Linked DNA regions of Homo sapiens. The protein of the gene in region 1 purifies or fractionates together with the protein of each later gene. This does not show direct contact. Each region holds a gene or a part of one and is shown on either strand. Other genes may lie near its edges.

Region 1 (3,500 bases):
CAGGTGAAACCTCACTAGATAGAATGTCCTCCTGTGAGCTGTCATCCTCATAAATGGGAGACAATGCTAAAGGATAAATTTTGTACCTTTTGGCCTCCACTGATAAGAACATTTCTGAACTATCACTATCAAATGTCTCACCTAATTTAGTACCTTTTTCAAAGTGATGGACAAGGTCAGTTCTACTCTCAGACCTTTCACATGCCAGAACAGGCATGCTGTCAGCGGACGTATCATGAAACAAGACAGACTGTGTTTGTCTTGCTTCTGCGGAAGCATACTTGTCCTCCTCTTGAAGGGGCTCTTCGTATAATATAGTAAAGGAAGAATTTTCTTGTTCATCTTGAGAAACAAAAGCTAAATTATATCCTTTGTCACTATAATCTGTCTCTCTCCTCTTGTCATATATTGCAGTAAGAGACATTCTTTTGTCTAGTCTTACTGTGGTATCCCCAGGTTGAAAATCTGGCATTGCTGGGGCTGGGTAGCCCTCATAATCCTTACTTAATGTAGGGGATTCATATCCCCTGAAATATGTAGGAAGTCTATTTTCATGTGCTATCAAGCCTTCCTTTATTTCTGTAGGCTCTTCCTTTGTTTCTTCAACACTCCCTTCAGCATACTCTTGTGGTGTTTTACTTTCAAATGCAGGAAGCATGGCCTCCCCTTGTTTAGTGGTCAATTCTAGTCCTGTTCCATGTATTTTCTCAATGTCTACCACTGCGGGTAACACTTTGTGTTTCCCAATATTCTCACCACGATCTTCTGGGGATATTTTTTCCATTTCTATCACAGAGGGTGTGGACACAGTTGCTCCAATAGTCTCTTTAACATCTCTCTTGCATGCTTTTTCCATTTCTAAGGGGGCAGGTGCTGTCTCGTGTGCTTCCTTCACTTTTAACACACACGGTACTATTTCAGTATTCTTAATGACCTCTTCAGCAGTCTTTCGGTAAGTAGCTTCCATTTTCAACACAGACCCTTCAGTGTTCCCGGTAAAACCTTTGGCATTTTTTTGGTAAGTATTTACTACCTCTAATGCAAGGGGCATCACCTCAGTTTTGCCACCGTCTCTTTCAGTATCCTTTGGGTAAGTATTTTCCATTTCTAACCTCACAGGCATCACTTCAGCCTTTCCAATATCCCCTTCAGCATCCTTTTGGTAAGTATTTTCCATTGCTAATGTAACGGGTATCACTTCAGCCTTTTCACTAATCCCTTCACCACCTTTTTGGTGGATATTTTCCACTTCTGACAAGGCTATCGTCCCAGTCTTGCCAATATCCCCTTCAGCATGCGTTTGGTAAATATTTTCCATGTCTACTGTAACAGGTGTCATCTCAGTCTTTACAATATCCCCTTCAGCATCCTTTTGGTGGATATTTTTCACTTCTGGCATCATAGGTATCACCTCAATTTTGCCAATATCCCCTTCAGTATCCTTCATCTTATAAGCTTTTTCCATTCCTAAAATGACAGCTGATCCCTCAGTTTTTTCAATACAGCTCTCGGCATCCATTTGGTATACTTCTCCCATTTTAAAAACATTAGCTTTTGGCTCAGTTTTCGTGACATTCAATTCAGCATCCATTTTATGTATTCTTCCCATTTCTATCATAGGAGGGACTGCCTCATATTTCAGAATATTCAATTCAGCATCCTTTTTGTTTGTTTTCCCTGTTTCTAACATGGAAGGTATAAGTTCAATTTTCCCTATATTTATTTCATTATCCTTCTTGTGTACTTTCCCTACATCTGACATTGCAAGAGGTGTGTTTTTACTGTGTCCTGGCAAGTTTTTTTCAGATATACATACAAGGCTATCAGACAAACTGCTTTTAGATGTACCAGGTGCATGGATGTCATCATTCACAAGTGGAGGCCATTTGAAATTTAATACAAGAGTTCTTCTGTCCTCTGTCTCAGTTTTGTTATTATCCACATTCTCTATTTCCATTGTCTCATTACAGTCCTCACTGCGAAATAAATGTGTTTTTACCCTATCATCTAACCGTTTATGTGACATGTCTTCAGCTAGTAAAACCGTATCTGATTCCTGCAAATTTATACTATCAGACAGTCCAGATCCATTTCCAGAAAATAGGGATTTTTGGTAGAGAACAATTTCTCCTCCCTTAATTGACTCTGTGCCACTAGCTAAGTTACTTAGGGAGAAGAATTCATTTAATACTTTATTTTCACTAATTTGTGTGCTTTGATTTACTGGCTGTTCTGAAACCAAGAACTCTCTAACTACATCATGTGGCTTAACACTATCACTGTTCAGAATTTTTGAAGTATTAGCCTGAAGTTCAGAATCCCAAGTATCCTCAGTATCTTCAAAAGTATCATTTCTCAATTTTTCTTGGGCTACATAAATAATCTCATTGACTAATTCCCTAGCTTTATCTTCTAACAAACAAGATACATTCATACTATTAGGATCAACAAGAAGATTCTTCTCACCAACTGTTGGTGAAACACAGGGCTTCTCTTTGACTTCTGACATGTTTTCCATGCCTTGCTCTTCCAAACCCTCTGTCTGTTGTATTTCTGTTAGTGTCACTTCTGATGGGTTTTTCTCAGAGATGTCTTCTTTCAGGGTACCCAGATTCATTATACCTTCTATGGCTATATGCTCCTGGCAGGTACTCACTGTGTGTTTGAATTTTAGTTCTTCCCTGACAGAATTAAAAATCTCACCAATCAATGTATCGGCCTTTTTGAGTAAACTACTTTTGAGGTCCAAAAGTTGGTCATGTGCTCTTCTCCTGGCTTCTATGTGCTCAGCAGAGGCTTCAGAACACTGTTGGCCTGAGCTGTTAACTGACGCTGCAGGCCCAGCAACTGCTCCAGTCTCTGCTTCCACGAGATTGTCAAATTGGGCAGCAGTTGGGAAATCAATGGATATCTTCCCAGTATAAATCCCAAAATGTTCCTGAAATGGGGTTACTTCTGTCCCAATTGAGACAGACGTTTCAAATTCCAAATAAGAGGTAGTAGGGTACAACAGGTTAGTTACAGAGGTACCTTCATGTGTGAGATCTTTGGTAACTTGTATAGAATCCAAATTATTTTGGGGCTTATGTGAATTTACTATCATGCTAACTTCTTCAGGGTAACTAGAGGAAGATGACACACTATCAATACCACCATTTAAAAAATGGATGTTCTCTTTCTTTCTGTAAGATGAGGATTTCTTTTCCAATTTCAGCACAGAAGGTACTTTAAGGAAGCTTGAGTCCTCAGATGCAGAAGAATTTTTTTCCAAACTGGAATCAGAATCCAGAAAAGGTGAATTTACTTTCATGCTGCCAGTTTCTTGGAATTTAGGGGAAATATTAGTTAAGCTGAGTTCCGCCATTTCTGAGTGACCAGAAATCTTTTTAGTCCCACAAATATCCAAAGATTGATGAAACACACAAGTGTGAGCTTCACAATTCTGCGCCATTTGCCTACTGATTTTTTCATCATGAATAGGTGGTAAAATCCAAGATATA
Region 2 (3,500 bases), on another chromosome or scaffold:
TCGCCCTCCTCTGCCCACAATTTTGCCACGGCTCCCGTCTCACTCAGAAGTCCCTGGAGGTGTTTCGTGCCTCTCAGGATCTGCCCCTCTGCTCCAGGCCTTTTTGGGCCTTTGCATCAACTCTTCCTGCTGGTGGAAGGTTCTTCCCGCAGGCATTTGCGTGACTTACTCCGCATCTCTCAAGACTGCTCAAGCACCACCTTCTCAACAAGCCCACCTGACAGGCCCCCTTGAACCTGAGTCTGCAGCGCCACCGTCCCTGGCCCCAGCTCCCTCCCTTTATCTCTGGCTTCTCTCCTACAGCGCTCGTCCACCCTGACACACATTCTAACCTCCTTGTTTCGTGCAGTTAGTGTTCATGTCTGTTCCTGCTGGAAAGCAAGCTCTCCAGGAGCACAACTCTGATGGTTCACGGGCGCATCCTGAGTGCCTAGAACAGAGCCTGGCACGCAGGACGAGCCTGGGAGGATGCACTGGACGGGGCTCGGGCTGGGATGGGCCCTCTGCCCAGCAGGGCCTCTCACTCTTACCTGTATTGCCCCAATGTTCTCCATGAGCTGGTCCGCATTGGAGGCCCCCAGGAGCACGGAGCTGACTCCCTCATTCCTCAGGCACCAGGCTGTGGCGGCGAGACCCAAGGTGAGGGAGAAACACCCACCACAGGGGCCCCTGATGGGTCTGCCTTGCCTCTGACTGGGCCGAGAGACCCAGCATCTTGGTCTGGGGGTCTGAGGGGGTCTAGGAAGCCCTGCAGTGCTGGGCACGGGCTTTGTCTAAGAGGTGGCTGGAGGAGGCATGGGGGAGCCCGCTGCTCCCTGATGGAGAGGTGGCCCAAGTGCTTAGCGCTCCCCATCCTCTTCCCATGAAAGCGGGAGCCCCATTACCTATGGCTGGCAGATGGAGGGGGTGGCCCAGGTCCTCAGGGACTCCTGACATCCCCCTAGAGGCATGGGGTCCCAACCATGCCCCTTAGAGCCCGATTACCCGAGGCTGGCTGGGGGATGATGTCCAGGGATCCCTTCCCTCTCTCCCCGGAGACACTGGCCCCATGGCAACCCCACCCTGTTACCTACGGCCAGCTGGGGCAGGTTCTCCCCAGGGGCACTGGCCCCATGGCGACCCCACCGTTACCTATGGCCAGCTGGGGCAGGGTGCAGCCCAGGCGCTCGGCGATGGCCTGCAGCTCCTTCAGCTTGGCTTGCTGGCGCCGGCCCTCCTCACTGAGGATCTTGTCCTTCAGCCACTGGTAGCCCTGGTTGCGGGGGAGGGGAGCAGCACAGCTACAGATGAGAGCAGGTCACCTGGACCCCCACGTGCAGGGGGCCGATGGGCTCATTCCTTCTGGACCCTTCTCCCTCATAGGGGCTCTTCTCATCTTGAAGCCAGGGCAGTGCCCCTGCCCCAGGCCTCTCAAGTAGGGGAGAGTGGGCAGTGGGCCGGGCACGGGCTGGTGGATGAGCGGGGCCTGTCCAGGCTCTGAAGTGCAAAGACTGTGGTGCTGGCCCAACCCCAAGTCAGGACAAGGAGGCGAGGTGCTGGCCTTCCTTCTCTTAGGAAACTTGGCAGCCTGGGGTCTCGGCTGCCACCCGTGGCCCAGAAGAACCTCCTGGCCCTAGGGGAGTGCTCTCTCCCCTGGCCATCCCCCCCAGAGGATTGCAGGGCCTCCTGGAGGGGGGCCCTGACCTTGCCATGGGATGGGAGGAGTCGGGGGCCAGGCCACGTTGCCCTGGAACCCAGGGCTGTGGGCCCCAGTGCTGAGACTGCTGGCTGGGCAGACTTTCTTGGCCTGCTCCTTGTTCTCCAGATCCTGCAGTCTGGGGACCCTCCTGAGTCCCCACTCAGAGGTTGTGTGGTGGGGAGGGGCGCCTCTCCCAGGGTCACCTCCATGTGGCTTTGCAGCCCCCATCTCGGAGCCCAGGCCCAGGGGTCTCAGAGTTCTGAATGCTGGGCTGTGGTGGGGGGCAGAGGTGGGGGATGTGGTAGGGGGTAGAGATGGGGGGATGTGGTGGGGGCAGGGGGGGGGATGTGAAAGGGCCTCTCCACTTGGGCCTGTGCCACAGGCTGGGCAGCCCCTCTACACATGGGATCAGGCCAGGAGGGGCTCCATGTTCTCACGCCAAGGAGCCCGCCCCCAGCAGACCGAGGTGGGAACAGCTGCAGCTCCCGGAACCCCTGCCCAGCACCAAAGCAGTCGGCCCAAAGGTCCCACCCGTCCAAAATGCCTATCCCCTGCCCGTCCCTCCCCACCAGGCTGTTCCTTCACCTTCAAGGAGGCTCTTGAGTAGGGTGGGATGCCACTGTCGTACTTGCCAGAAACAATGCCACAGGCCAGAGGGGACCAGGTCATGGCGCCCACTCCTGAAGAGGAAAAGCAGGTGGAGTCAAGCCCTGGGCCCGAGAGCAGGGGTGGGGTGGGGCGGGGCGAGGGGCCCGAGGGTGCCCACCTATCTTGTGGAACAGCTCCGGCAGCTGCACCTCCACTTTCTCACGCTGGAACATGTGGTACTCAGCCTGCTCGCAGATGGGCGGGGTCAGGTTGAACTGCCGGGCCACGGAGTAGGCCTCCTGTGAAGGCAGAAAGGGACCCCGAGGGCCCTTGCCTGTGAGCAGGCGGGAGGCTGCCGGGGCAGCCATGGAGAGGGCACCAAGGTGTCCCCGGAGCAGGCTGGCCCAGCAGCTGCAGCCCGGGCTCCCCACTGCTCACACTCATAGCTTCCCTGGGAGCCAGGCAGGCCCTGGTGAGCTGGGAAAAGGAGGTGGGTGGTGGGACCCCCAGGCCGGAGGGTCCAGTTATGAGCAGCCCAGGCTCTGAACCACACAGCCTGGATGTTAATCTTGGCCCAAGCTGTGTGACCTTGGCATGTTACTGAACCTCTCTGTGCCACAGTGTCCACATCTGAAAAATGGGCTGCCTGCGGCACTCACCTGGTAAAGGCACCGGTGAGGATTGCATGTGAGAGGGTCCCTGTGGAACCCTTGACCCTAACAGCACCGGGCACGTCTCAGGAGCCCAGTGGAAACAGCTGACGGTGTTGTCACCCCAGAGTGCTTGCTGAGCTCCAGGGCATCTGCTAAGAGCTTCACACTGGCTCTCTCAGGGACTCCTTAGAATGGCCCCATGGGGGCTCACCTAGCAGATGTGTTCTACAGGTGGGGAAACAAGCTCAGAGACGTTAAGCCATTTGTCCAGGGCCACACAGCGCTGGGATCCATGCAGAATCCCCGTCTGCAAGGCCTACAGACATAACCACCACACTCCACCATCCTGTCCCTCCCTTAGCACCCAGGCATCGGTGCAGTTGGGACCAAAGGCACAGACCCCGCCAGAGCTTTGGGGTCTCCATACGCAGCCGGTGCCGGGAGTCTGTGCCTGGACACACACATGCTGCGCGGCCACCGTACCATGATCTCCATGGAGCTCCAGCGTGACGTGCCCCAGTACATGGCCATCCCCTGGTTGATGACGTGGGTCATGGCGCGGACGGTCTCTGTCGTGAGAG

The links. Proteins that work in one complex are often made in the same cells at the same time.
Region 2: the proteins of CRYBG3 (region 1) and KCNAB2 purify together in Homo sapiens (co-immunoprecipitation; one large-scale study listed by IntAct). This does not show direct contact.

Annotation. Positions count from the first base shown.
Region 1 is NC_000003.12:97,874,011-97,877,510, reverse strand, and holds part of CRYBG3 (very large A-kinase anchor protein), read right to left. Parts: coding exon 1-3,500.
Region 2 is NC_000001.11:6,094,388-6,097,887, reverse strand, and holds part of KCNAB2 (voltage-gated potassium channel subunit beta-2), read right to left. Parts: intron 3,489-3,500; coding exon 3,403-3,488; intron 2,566-3,402; coding exon 2,445-2,565; intron 2,359-2,444; coding exon 2,264-2,358; intron 1,253-2,263; coding exon 1,132-1,252; intron 620-1,131; coding exon 531-619; coding exon of another isoform or gene 357-530; exon of another isoform or gene 333-356; intron 1-332.